4 linked regions of the Homo sapiens genome follow. The protein of the gene in region 1 purifies or fractionates together with the protein of each later gene. This does not show direct contact. Each region holds a gene or a part of one and is shown on either strand. Other genes may lie near its edges.

Region 1 (3,500 bases):
AATTTCATTTATATGGATCTATTTATCTTGTGATTTTCCTGATAGGCAGTAAGTTTTATTCCTTAGTAGCATTTTAGACTAATTACAAATACAGATGCTTGTTATTGATATGTTTATTTATATTTCCTAAGAGTTTAAGTATAGATAATGGGTCACATGTTTTAGAGTACAAATTTTAGACTTTAAATGGAACCTTAGCAAGTGGAATCTAACCCTCTTGTTTAAGTAACTAAGATAGGCCCAAGTTAGGTTGAAATGACTTAGCTGTCAAACAGTTACTTAGTAACAGAAAAGCAGATACTTTTTTAAATTTTTTTTTAAATTTTTATTTGTTTTATTTATTTATTTCTTTTTGAGACAGAGTTTCGCTCTTGTTGCCCAGGCTGGAGTGCAGTGGCGTGATCTCTGCCTCCCGGGTTCAAGTGATTCTTCTGCCTCAGCCTCCCTAGTAGCTGGGATTACAGGCACCTGCCACCATGCCCAGCTAATTTTTTGTGTTTTTAGTAGAGACGGGGTTTCACCTTGTTGGCCAGGCTGGTCTTGAACTCCTGACCTCGGGTGATCCACCCACCTCATCCTCCCAAAGTGCTGGGGTTACAGGTGTGAGCCACCGCACCTGGCTGCGGATATTATTTCATATTTTTTGGAAGCTAGAAACAATTTTTCTCATCAGATGGCTTTATGAATAAATCTTGTATTCCACTTTGGTTTAATATTCAGCCCTTTCCAGCTGGTAATCTGAGGCAGATTTTCAATAGCATATTCTCATGTGTACCTTGTACAAACTTTCAGTAAATCCCTGCTCTTAACAGAAAATGGCTTGAAGACTTAACTGTGTATGTCACTTTAGCCCTGTGTTTAATTTTTGTGTTCTTGGGACTATATCAAGTTTCTGTTTGATTGTCCCAGTGCAAACTAGTCTCTCTCTCTCTCTCAAGTTGTTTTGAGTACCTGGATTGCCCATGATGTTTCCCCTATACAAAGTGATTAACCGTTTTTTGAAGTTGAACAGGAAATGCTATCACATTTTGCATACAGCCACATATTCTAGATTGAGCAAGGAATGTGAATTTGATTTAATGACTTGGAAACTGCTTGATGAACCTCCTTATAGGCTGCTAAATAGTAAATGAGAAAAGAGACTGTTGGTGTGATGTTTTTTAGCGTTAATTTTTCTTGTTGACTCTTGAAGTTTGTAAATGAAAAGCTTCCCCACACTTCCCAAATTTCTAGTGCTTTATAATGGCCTCACAAAAAGCATTTTCTGTTTGCTAGTCCATTTTTCTGGATTAAATTTGAAGGTGGCTTTTTATTTTTGTGTATGTGTCTGTGAGAAAACTGTCAAAGCCAAGCAGTTTGTTTCTTGTTTGTATACGGCAGTTGTAATATTGAGATATAATTACAGATTTTGTTGCATTAGTATTTATATAATATTTGACAATGAAGTTACAGAATTCTTAGAGCTTATAGTAGAAAATCTTGCCCCTTCTAATATTCTTGAGAAGTGATAAAACCAAATCTCTTCATTAATTTATAACCTTTCTGAGGGTCATGAGCTGATTTTATGGGCTTATATTTAAAAGTTGACTTTTCAGGTGGGGCGCAGTGGCTCACGCCTGTAATCCCAGCACTTTGGAAGACTGAGGAGGGTGGATCACCTGAGGTCAGGTGAAATCCCATCTCTCCTAAATACAAACACTTAGCCAGGCATGGTGGCGCATGCCTGTAATCCCAGCTACTTGGGAGGCTGAGGCAGGAGAATTACTTGAACCTGGGAGGTGGAGGTTGCCGTGAACCGAGATCGTGCCGTTGCACTGCAGCCTGGGCTACAAGAGTGAAACTCTGTCTCAAAATAAATAAATAAATAAAAGTTGACTTTTCAGATGGGTTGGAAAACACCCTATGTTATTGACCACCTTAATTTCAAAGTAGTATGTTTCCCAGGCCCAATAATTCGGTTTGTGTCACTTTCCAAAGGGCTGCCCTTGAATTTGCTCTTAGAAGCCTTTGGAACTGAAATACTGAAATTTGAGGGGAACATTTCTTTTTTGATTATGTCAAAACAGGCATGATCTAAGGAGATCACAGAGATCCTGTAGGAGTTGTGTAGGTCCAAGACTGTAACAACCACTGAGTAATTCACACTCTGGTTCTAAAACAAAAACAAAAAATATTTTTATTGTCAGCCCTCTCCTAGGGGAAAATAATACTTTAAAAAATTTTATTAAATAGAGGATTTGGTTATGAGTCATTGGACCTGAGTTTTAATTAAAATAGTCACAGTGAATGGGACTATAACCAGGTTCTACTTTTGGGGGTAATGAATCAAGGTAACTCAGATTTTAGCTGTCCTATTCAGTAGTTCTTTTGGCTTCTTAGTATGTCTTAACCTTGTTTATAATAAATAATTCCATATGTAGTTTTTTGTAATGTACAAGGCAGATTGAAAAGTTTTAGGATGAATAAAATAATGGAACCAGTTCTCATTTAAGACTTGAATCTACTTTTAGTCTTAAGTATTATTTACAATTCATTAGTATTCTAGTTTTTTGCTTCTGTTGGATGGATTTTGAGACTGAGCTCTATAAAATCACACTCTTGATAATTCTATGAAATTATCAAGTATATAGGGAAGATGCTAAGCCAGTTTTAAATACTAACTTCTATATATTCTTTGCATGTTTTTTCCCTATAGATTGTTAAACTTTGTTTCCTGATTTGACTTAGACATTTCTTTTAAATCTTACTGAATGATTAGTGGTCTGAATGATGTATATGTATTTTACTGTCCTACAGTTGTTTTTTCTTGAACTTTTTGAGTCTTGGGACTGAACTGTTTCCAAAATTAATGCCTTCTGGAAGTTGAAATTGTCTACGTTTTACATTGTAAATGGCACGTAATGTTCAGTTTTTAGAATATCTAAATTAAAGACATTGCCTGTGATAGCTTGAGGGAATATTTGAGGGCCTAATATGGTAGCTGGTCATTCTTGTAGCTAAAAACTTGGTGTGATAAACAGGAGTCTGACCTGGCCGTTGCCTTTTCTCATCTGCAGGTGTGTGTGGTTTCAGCGCAGCATGGCTGTGGTCATCCGTTTGCAAGGTCTCCCAATTGTGGCGGGGACCATGGACATTCGCCACTTCTTCTCTGGATTGACCATTCCTGATGGGGGCGTGCATATTGTAGGGGGTGAACTGGGTGAGGCTTTCATCGTTTTTGCCACTGATGAAGATGCAAGGCTTGGTATGATGCGCACAGGTGGTACAATTAAAGGGTCAAAAGTAACACTATTGTTGAGTAGTAAGACGGAAATGCAGAATATGATTGAACTGAGTCGTAGGCGTTTTGAAACTGCCAACTTAGATATACCACCAGCAAATGCCAGTAGATCAGGACCACCACCTAGCTCAGGAATGAGTAGCAGGGTAAACTTGCCCACAACAGTATCCAACTTTAATAATCCATCACCCAGTGTAGTTACTGCCACCACTTCTGTTCA
Region 2 (3,500 bases), on another chromosome or scaffold:
TTGTCACCCAGGCTGGAATGCAATGGCGTGGTCTCGTTTCACTGCAACCTCCACCTCCCGAGTTCAAGCAATTCTCCTGCCTCAGCCTCCCGAGTATTTGGGATTACAGGCATCTGCCACCACACCCAGCTAATTTTTGTATTTTTACTAGAGTCAGGGTTTCACCATGTTGGCCACAGTTGTCCCGAGCTCCTGACCTCAGGTGATCCGCCCATCTCAGCCTCTCAAAGTGCTGGGATTACATACATGAGCCACCATGCCCAGCCATAGTTTTTTAAATGTATGTTTGATAGTTTACTGCCAGCTGTAACCCACCTGTTTTATTTTAGGCAGGATTATAATTGCTCATTAGCAAAATTGAGGCTCGAAGAGTTGATGTATTCACTGGTTATATTTTGGCAAAACTAGGATTTAAAGTAGTATCACCTTTTTGTTACCCAACCATGAAAGTCTGCTACCTAGCTGGAGGCTGAGGTGGGCAGATCACCTGAGGTCAGAAGATCGAGACCAGCCTGACCAACATGGTAAAACCCCGTCTCTACTAAAATACAAAAACTAGCCAGGCGTAATGGCGGGCACCTATAATCTCAGCTACCTGGGAGGCTGAGGCGGGAGAATTGCTTGAAACCAGGAGGCAGAGGTTGCAGTGAGCCGAGATCGCACCACTGCCCTCCAGCCTGGGCAACAAGAGTGAGACTCTGTCTCAAAAAAAATAAAATAAAAGAAAGTCTGCTACCTATAACACTAACCTGTGCTTTCCTGTGGAATCAAGAATTCAGCAGAAACTCACAAGTCATCCAAACTTTGTTAGGTTCACTTTTCCAAAGAGCATAAATATTCAAAGAAAATCTCTTCCAGCTGCCCATTTTTTATGGATATAATTTTTGTACAATATTCTGGTATCAAGCAGTGTACACAGTAGATGATCAGAAAGTACCTTTTAACTGAACTCTTTTCCCCTACTAGACTCCACGCAGGGCAGAAATCCTTTTGCCTGTGCACATGTTACGGTTTTGATACATATTGGTTGAATGAATGAGCAAACAAATGTACTTCCTGTTAGAAGGCTTATGTTATGCAAGTCTCTTTTTGATAAAGTAGTCTCTAGAAGAAACAAAATATATTTAAGACATACCTTAGATTGATTTATTTTTAAAATATTGTTTTGATCCTTAGAGGTTTAGAGTGAAAATCTTTCCAGAGTATTCCTCAGTATAGATGATACAATTAAGTGTTAAAATTCTCATGACATTTTTCTAAATCTAAATTTTAGGCAAGAGAACACCTTGGAGGGGAATCCTATTATTTGGGCCGCCTGGAACAGGAAAGTCCTACTTAGCCAAAGCTGTAGCAACAGAAGCCAACAACTCAACATTTTTTTCAATATCTTCCTCTGATCTTGTTTCTAAGTGGCTAGGTGAAAGTGAAAAGTAAGTAGTAAATCAATTTTTTAAAGTTTTTTCTTTGCCTGTAATTACTGTATCACTCCTTAATAGATTTCTTACATCACTTATAGATATTCAGAGAAGTCATGTAATACAGGTACTCACTTCTCTGTCAAATCAGTCTCTAATCTAGAATTTCTTTTGTGGGAAAAGATAGCATATATCTACAACCTAGTGAATCATAAAGTGAATTATCCAGTTGTAGCATTCTTATTTTCTGTACCTGAAACATGATTAGGCTTTTTAATCTACAGAGTTCTTGTAATATTGATATATTACTTTGTTTTAATCTTTTACTATTTTTTAGAGACTTAAAAGTTTTCATTTATTTTTAGACTGGTTAAGAATTTATTCCAACTTGCCAGAGAGAACAAGCCCTCCATTATCTTCATTGATGAAATTGATTCTCTCTGTGGTTCAAGAAGTGAAAATGAAAGTGAAGCCGCACGTAGAATTAAGACGGAGTTCCTAGTGCAAATGCAAGGTAGTGTTACTAATTTTTTTTTTCTTTTTGAGACGGAGTCTCACTCTGTCGCCCAGGCTGGAGTGCAGTGGCGCGATCTCAGCTCACTACAACCTCCACCTCCCAGGTTCAAGCAATTCTCATGCCTCAGCCTCCTGAGTAGCTGGGATTACAGGCGCGCACCACCATGCCCGGCTAATTTAATGTTACTGATTTTTAAAGTCGTTTTTGTTTATTTTATAACAATTTTTATAACAGTAATGAAAAATTCAAGCAGAATTTCTCCATTCTAACAAACTGTTTCATTTTGCCATGTTTCATTCCAATTGTCTTCCATATGCATACATAATTTTTACTCAATTGTAATTATCTTGTAGGACTCACTGACATAAATAGAAAAGAGATTTAATGTATTCATTTATAATGTACCAGGAACAACTTCAGTAAAAGTAATATGTAGACTTCGAATGAAATTTTTCAAGAAATATTTTGAAACGAATGTTAATAGTATTTTCCACAATCTGGGAGATTTGATTCATATATTTGCATCATATTGCATCATAGTGTATTTGGATCATATTGCCGTAAGGTGATATTTGATTAAATACAGTTCTTTTCCAAAGACAGACTCTCAAGATGAAGCACTTTAATGGTAAAGCACCACATTTCTTAACAGAATATATGGAAGAAGTTTAAAGAACACCAAAATGACAAATTAATTAAAGCATTACCTATTTTAATGCAGGGGTTGGTGTAGACAATGATGGAATTTTGGTTCTGGGAGCTACAAATATACCCTGGGTTCTGGATTCTGCCATTAGGCGAAGGTAGGATAATATAGTAAATATCTTATTTCTCACTGCAGATGTAACAAGTAGATGATAATTCTCTTTTTGTCTTGTCAGGAAGCATTCTAACAACTTTTCAAAAGATTTGTAATGTGCTCTAACCCTGTTGCTCCCCTGCCTTGAGTGGGAGAAGGGTGGTCATTTGCTTGTTTGTTTCCCTAGTTTATCAAATATACAAGATTTCCACACACTTCTGTCTTTCATATTAGAAAATATATTACCTAATGCTTACCTTTCATTCTGATTAAGTTTGGTGGGCACTGATGCTTCAAAAATTTATAAACATAGTTTGACAATTCAGTAAAAACCATTTATATAAAATTTTAGCAAAATGGCAATTCTATAAGTCAAAATAAGATAACCAGGTAAGATTTTTTTTTTTTTTTTGAGTCGGAGTCTCACTCTGTTGCCAGGCTGGAGTGCGGTGGTGCGATCTCGGCTCACTGCATCCTCCACCTCCCGGGTTCAAGTGATTCTCCTGCCTCAGCCTCCCAAGTAGCTGGGACTACAGGTATGCACCACCACGCCCAGCTAATTTGTATATTTTTAGTAGAGACGAGATTTCATCATGTGGCCAGGATGGTCTCGATCTCTTGACCTCATGATCCACCCGCCTCAGCCTCCGAGAGTGCTGGAATTACAGATGTGAGCCACCGTGCCCAGCCAAGATTTTTTTTTTTTTTAGTAAAAACTATATGTCAGGCCGGGTGTGGTGGCTCATGCCTGTAATCCCAGCACTTTGGG
Region 3 (3,500 bases), on another chromosome or scaffold:
GGCGCCATCTTGGCTCAGTGCAGTCTTCCCCTCCTGGGTTCAAGTGATTCTCCTGCCTCAGCCTCCCAAGTAGCTGGGATTATAGGTGCCCGCCACCACACCCGGCTAATTTTTGTATTTTTTAGTAGAGATGGGGTTTCATCATTTTGGCCAGGCTGGTCTCAAACTCCTGACCTCAGGTGATCTGCCCACCTTGGCCTCCCAAAGTGGGTATTATATGCGTGAGCCACTGGGCCCAGCCTAAAAATTTTTTTAATTTTTAGGCCGTAGTCCCAGCTACTTGGGAAGCTGAGGTGGGAGGATTGCTTGAGTCCAGTTCAAGGCTGTAGTGAGCTGTGATTGGGCCACTACACTCCAGCCTGGATGACAGAACAAGACTCTTTCTCTCAAATAAAAAACAAAACAAATCTGAAGCCTGTCTCTTAGTGTCCACTCATAAATTATAAAATTTAAACATAAAAAAATGTGGAGCAGTATACTGTGTACTATTACATTTTTGGACTACTACATTCCACTGGACTGTTTTTTTTAACCTTTCTGAATCTGTTGCCATATTTGTCAAGTACCTACTCTACTTAACTCCCGTAGTTGTGCAGATTACATGAGATATACGTGTTAAAATGTGTGATAAATTGAAAGAAAAAAAACCATAATTGTTATTTTTTTTGTTGTGTAGCTGCCTATGTAAGTGTTGTATTTTTTTGTTGTTTGTTTTTTCCTAGTGTAGCTTTGACTGGAATGATGGTTTGTTTGATGTGACTTGGAGTGAGAACAACGAACATGTCCTCATCACCTGTAGTGGCGATGGCTCGCTGCAGCTCTGGGACACTGCCAAAGCTGCAGGGCCACTGCAAGTCTATAAAGAACACGCTCAGGAGGTAGGAGGGAAATCTTTCTGGGCTGATTATTTTTCTTTCTTCGACTTTGGTTGAAATCCATTTGGGGATGGACACATGGAGAAATATCTTCAGGGGACAAGTTTAAACGTTAGCATTTCTTATACATACTAGATGTCACTTATTATTTGATTATTCAAACATAAAGTACCTCTTGGCCTAAGGAGTGGGGAAAGAAAAGAAAAGGTCAGTCTTCTCATTAGGCAGAAAGAACACCTCCAGCAGTGTACTCTGGCACCATTTCCTCCTGAGAGGCCCATCACTTTCTTTGTGCTCTAAGAATGTGCTTGCCACATGGTGCCTTAAGGTAGAGGTAGGTGGACTTTTCACATAGACATCACAAGATTGCCTTTGGGGCTTCAGTGAGATTCCCGAGGTGTTTCAGAGTATATTGGAGCAAGAGCATAAAATACTGAGTATGAGGCAGAACTTACTGAAGGGATTTTATATCTAAATCTGGTTCATGTGTCTAGATTTTGTGTGTGTGTATGTATAGCATAGAAAATAGTTTGGGCTTCAGTTGTACTAACATACATGTATATTTTCAGTGAACATAAAGACATCCTCTTTTTGTGTTTTTACCTTAAATGTTTTAAGATTTTCCTTAAGGGAGCAGTACATCCTTCAGATGAAAACTTGCTAATCTACTTTCAAATTTTTGTCCACCACAGTGCCTGGCCCGAGAAGGCCCTCAATAAATGCTTATTAGATGCAAGAATATCAGTCTTTTGTGGTAAAGATTAGTTATGTGAGGGGTCCAGATGTTTTATAGCTGTAGCTATTGACAATCAAGATTTCTAAGATTGTTACTGAAATAATGAAAAATTTTAGTTTCTATTTTAATTATGATAGCTATTTGAATAAATGTAGTTGTAAATTACTATGTTTTCAGGGAATTACTGAATATTAAGACAATTTTGGTAAAGGAGAAATTTTAGTTTCAGGATAATCAATGCACGAATCTCTACAGAACAGTATGTCCAAAATTCAGATACTTTTGTGGAACCTGTGTGAATTTGTGTGTGTGTGTGTGTGTGTGTGTGTGTGTGTGTGTGTGTGTGTCAGGGTCTCACTCTGTTGCCCAGGCTAGAGTGCAGTGGTGCAATCTTGGCTTACTGCAACCTCCACCTTCTGGAATGGGCTCAAGCCATTCTCATGTCTTAGCCACCCGAGTAGCTGGGATTACAGACGTGCGCCACCGTGCCCTGCTAATTTTTGTATTTTTAGTAGAGACGGGTTTCACCATGTTGGCTAGGCTGGTCTTGAACTCCTGGGCTCACATGATCCACCTGCCTTGGCCTCCCAAAGTGCTGGGATTATAGGCGTGAGCCACCGTGCCCAGCCAATTTTTGTGTGTGTGTGTTTTTTTGTTGTTGTTTTTTTTTGTAGAGATGGAGTTTCGCTATGTTGCCCAGGCTAGTTTTTGTGATGTTTGACATCTTTTTATACCACTTGTATTATAATGTATTTCTTTTCCTTCTTTCTTTTTTAAAAAATATTTTTCTTTTCAGAAGTTTTTTTTTTCCTTTTTCTTAAATCTTTGGTGCCTTTTATTATCTATATAAATTCAAGGATGATAACTGACATCATAAAATAATATAGCTAGTTAAGGTAAATTCAATATATTGACTTAATGTTTTTCTTTCAATCAAGTAAAGTCGTTGCTTCATTTATCCTAAAACAGTAATATTCATGAAACAATGGGGTTGATGGCTACTTTAGTATGTACATTTATTTGTTTTTAGTGTACATTGAGATAAGTAAGTAATGAATAAAATAAATGTATGTACCAGTTAAAATAATCTCTGGTGTAACTACTCTCTGGAAAATACTGTTCTAGGATATCCTGGATGGATGCTCACTCAGTCTTTACTTCCTGTCAGTGAAAGTAAATTTCACTTTCTCTTGAGATAACTTATTTGACTTTTAGGTTGTTCTGATTATTAAGAAACTGCTTCTTGTAATCCCAACTCTACCTTCTATAGCAACCAACTGCTGCTTTTAGTGTCTTTCTCTGAAGTGGCAAGACCAGGTCCAGCCCCTCTTGTCCAGGAAACCTCTTGAAAATAGCCATCGTGCTCTCTTCCAGACTGTGCACTTGTCATTTCATTGTCCTGTCCTCAGATGACATGATCTGTACGTCTTTCATCCTTCTGATAGCCTCCTTTGATAATCCTGTTTTTCAACTCCCCTTTCAACATATACCTAATTTATTCCAGAAATGTGATGAAGGGCTAAGCTTTATAAGATTTTACCACCATAGTCTTGAGCCCCTAGCTCTAATAATATTACCTAAAGTGGCTATACATTGTTCTCAGCCATGTCTTAGTGTTAGGTTACTTTGAGTCTGCTAGTAACACACTTACCTCTTTTGTTATTTGAACTGCTATTAAACCAGTTTTACATCATTCTGTGATTTTGCAGCTGATTTCTTGAACCGAAGACACACTTCTGTTTTTTAATTTTTTAAATTTGTTTTGCGTACTGCTATTCTAGTTAGACTTCCTCGTTTTCTTTTCAAATGCACTTTTTGGTAAGCGTTTGTATCAGGATGCCTTGAATGTTAGTGTAATAGAAAACAATTAAATGGCTTCAACAGTCAGA
Region 4 (3,500 bases), about 10 Mb from region 1:
TAGGCTTCTACATTACTGTATAAATTCCAAAGTCCTTTACGTCACAGGAATTACAGCAGCATAATTAATGAGTCCTCATAGCCGCTATAAGTACAACTACTGCTGCTGTCACTCACAGTCAGGCCTCTTGTGGACTTTCATCATGCTGGATTTTATTTACACTACATTTGAACGAACTTAATATTCTATGGGGTTTCCATAGCACCTGCCTCCCCCCTCTGGCAGAGGAAGCCACAGGCACTGTCCAGGCAGGGTTTATTAACCAGTGCGAAATCATACTGAGCCCAACTAGACCCTGGCTATCTGAGAAAATACTGTGGGTCAAGTATTAACAAGAGGTTTTATAAAAAGCTGACAGGCCAGGAACATGACCAGAATGTTTTTACTTTGCCTTTAACTAAAAATGTATATTTTTTTTTAAGAGATGACGGTCTCACTATGTTGCCCAGGCTGGCTGCAAACTCCTGGCCTCAAGTGATCCTCGCGTCTCAGCCTCCCAAGCAGCTGGCACTACAGGTGCATGCCACCACACCTGGCTAAAATGTGGATTTTTAGGTTGTAGTTTGCTCTCTCTGCAAAAGTTCCTAACTTCTACTTAGAACTTTTCTACTGTGGGGAAAAAGTTTACCAGTTATGTCCCAAGAGCTTGATTATCTCTGTTTGTAAGGGACAGGACTGACACGGGAAGTGCTGGGCCTAGACTCGAAGCCTGTGCGTCTCCAATTGTCCAGGTTGCATGCAGACATCGAGGGTTCTGCAGCCTCCTGCTGAAGCACAGCCCCCAAGGCACTGCCCAGGGCCTGCCGGGCCACAGGCTCTGTCCTTGGGGACTGCAATGTGTTTTGCTGCTTTGAGGTTTTTCTGCAACTTGTTTCAATTTAAGAACTTTCATCATTTGCTGAGATGTGTCTATTTTGCTTTTACCTTAATATGGTTCAGAGTGAAAACCATGAAACTGAAAAGAGGCTTGCTGGAGGAGCTGGCCAAGAAAATGCAGACTTGAATGGTACAGGCTGGGGTCTCATCCCAGCTCCCTGCCCTGGCTAGCTGGGTGACCTGGGCAAGTCACTCAGCCTCTGAGAGGACCACATTCACCTGTGGGCTCGCACAGGGCTAGGCTAGGACTCAGGCAAGGCTGGTTCCCCTCACCATACCAGACTTTTCAAGGAGAAATGCAAAGCCTAGAAAGTTGCCAAGTGGCAGTTCTGAAAAAAACCATGTAAAGGCATAGGCTTTGTCCAAGCAACAGCCTAGGGACCTAGCTCTTCCATGACCCCAAATCCTGCTGCTGCAGGACAGCCTCTTTCCACTCACTCCCCTCTGGCTCCTCTTGTGCAACCATGAACAGGGCTTCCCTGCTCAGGGAGCGCTGGTTGGAGAACTGGACTCACCTGCTTCAGCCTGAAAATGCCAACACGATCCCTTAACCTCCCTGCTCAGCAGCTCTGCTCTAAGGAGGCCCTGCCGCCTGGGATTGAACTGGGCCATTGATCTTTCTACCATGGTCCCTTCTTGCAATATGACATAACAAGTGTTAAGTAGCCTAAAGCCAGCCTGTTTTTTGTTTTTGTTTTTGTTTTTTTTTTTTTGAGACAGAGTTTCGCTCTGTTGCCCAGGCTGGAATGCAATGGTGCAATCTTGGCTCACTGCAACCTCCACCTCCTGGGTTCAAGCCAGGCCCTCCACTTTTTTTTTTTTAACAGAGTTTATCACATGCAAAGCCTACACAACCAGGCAAATAATAGAAAAACATAAAGCTCAAAAATAGATGAAAATATGATCAACACGAACAGTACACCAAATACCAATCACCTAAAGACACCTTAGGAGTTAACAGACTCTGAAAAGAGAGTGTAACACCAACTGGCAGAGCCTCATTTTGTTCTTTACAGACAGAGATTCACAGAATTGGGCCTGTGGAGACCACCAATTTTTTCTCCCTTTTCTGAAGGGATTTTTAACTAGAGTCTTCATTTAACGTTAGTGTCTTAATACTCTGGTGGAAAAAGAAAGAACTTTCCCAACATTCAGGGAAACAAAAGAAAGAGCTGGAGCCAGGTGTGATGGCTCATGCCTATAATCCCAGCACTTTGGGAGGCTGAGGCAGGTATATCACTTGAGGTCAGGAGCTCAAGACCAGCCTGGCCAACATGATGAAACCCCGTCTCTACTAAAAATACAAAACTAGCTGGGCGTGGTGGTGCACACCTGTAATCCCACCTATTCGGAAGGCTGAGGCAGGAGAATCGCCTGAACCCGGGAGGCGGAGGTTGCAGTGAGTAGAGATCGCGCCACTGCACTCCAGCCTGGGCAACAAGAGCAAAACTCCACCTCAAAAAAAAAAAAAAGAGTTGGGCGGCTGCTTTCACCAAGATGAAGAGCCTCATTCTACAGGCAGATCTGGTCTGAAACCGGTCCCCTCCTGTCCCCAGGAAAGCACAGCAACTCTCCTTTTGTGTATTCGATTCTGTCGGTGCCAGCATGCCTCAGACCAGCCGCCCTCTACTGGTTCCTACATGGGCACAGAGTGACTCACAGGGCAGAGTGTCCCTCCCTGCCACCCAGGCACTATGGACAGAGCTGGCCCTGATAAGACACAGGAACACAGGCCACTGAGCCAGCCAGAGGCCAGTGGGCACCACGTTCCACCAGCCAGGCCTTGGAGCGGGGGCTCCCAGCCCCTCCAGACACAAAGGGGCCACCTCCCTGGGCTGGACCTGCTGGCTCCTGCTGGTGAGCTGAGCAGTCTCAGATACCATCCAGGGGAACCGAGGTCCTGTGGGAGGAGAGATGTTGAGGGGCCTCCCACCTGCCAGACGCTGAGGTTGGTCTTTGGTTTCCTTGACAGTGTCACAGTGTCCACTCCACTGTGTCTGAGGGGGCTTCTGGGGAGTTGCTCACAGAGCAATCTGATAATCCACTACTGTATCTGCTGTAAGGATGTGAGGATTAGCTAGCACATCTCTCAAGCTCCCAGCCTGTGATGTCACACGGTACTTTCTTAATGAATTAACTGCCAGGGAAACTTGGCTTCCCATGAACAGTGGGCAGGCTTCTCAACGTGGATCGTGGATTTCCTTCTCACTCCAGTACCTACGACTCAAACACAGGTCTGTTTGCTCAATTTTGAAAATGTCAAATGTAAAAGAATTATAGAACTTTAGAACTTATGGGGATCTTAAGAGATCACTTGGTTCTGTAGTAAACAAATTCCTTCTACACTCCATGACACACATTGCCACAAGTCACTGTCTCCCGCCTTCTATGCAATTAAGCTCCACAAAAAGTCTATTCAGTACTAATCCAGAGCCAGAAAGCGATGGGAGCCTTCTCCTTATCACTGACAGAGCCTAATCAACTTACACTAAGTGATCTGGACCGTGTCAAACTATATTTATACCTAGTGAGCTACCAGTCATCGTTTTTAAACACTACTTTAATCTTTCATTTTAACTGTTTGTAGGCCGAGAAATGCCACTTACCTATACCTAAAATTACAT

The links. Proteins that work in one complex are often made in the same cells at the same time.
Region 2: the proteins of CPNE1 (region 1) and VPS4B fractionate together in Homo sapiens (co-fractionation; one large-scale study listed by BioGRID). This does not show direct contact.
Region 3: the proteins of CPNE1 (region 1) and PEX7 purify together in Homo sapiens (co-immunoprecipitation; one large-scale study listed by IntAct). This does not show direct contact.
Region 4: the proteins of CPNE1 (region 1) and PYGB fractionate together in Homo sapiens (co-fractionation; one large-scale study listed by BioGRID). This does not show direct contact.

Annotation. Positions count from the first base shown.
Region 1 is NC_000020.11:35,654,901-35,658,400, reverse strand, and holds part of CPNE1 (copine-1), read left to right. Parts: intron 1-3,056; exon of another isoform or gene 3,057-3,078; coding exon of another isoform or gene 3,079-3,500. Other genes in the region: RBM12 (RNA-binding protein 12), read left to right, coding at 3,079-3,500.
Region 2 is NC_000018.10:63,398,477-63,401,976, reverse strand, and holds part of VPS4B (vacuolar protein sorting-associated protein 4B), read left to right. Parts: intron 1-937; exon of another isoform or gene 938-1,130; intron 1,131-1,273; coding exon 1,274-1,430; intron 1,431-1,780; coding exon 1,781-1,929; intron 1,930-2,653; coding exon 2,654-2,735; intron 2,736-3,500.
Region 3 is NC_000006.12:136,825,592-136,829,091, forward strand, and holds part of PEX7 (peroxisomal biogenesis factor 7), read left to right. Parts: intron 1-727; coding exon 728-878; intron 879-3,500. UniProt on the Homo sapiens protein: Receptor required for the peroxisomal import of proteins containing a C-terminal PTS2-type peroxisomal targeting signal. Specifically binds to cargo proteins containing a PTS2 peroxisomal targeting signal in the cytosol.
Region 4 is NC_000020.11:25,254,585-25,258,084, reverse strand, and holds part of PYGB (glycogen phosphorylase, brain form), read right to left. Parts: intron 1-3,500. UniProt on the Homo sapiens protein: Glycogen phosphorylase that regulates glycogen mobilization. Phosphorylase is an important allosteric enzyme in carbohydrate metabolism. Enzymes from different sources differ in their regulatory mechanisms and in their natural substrates.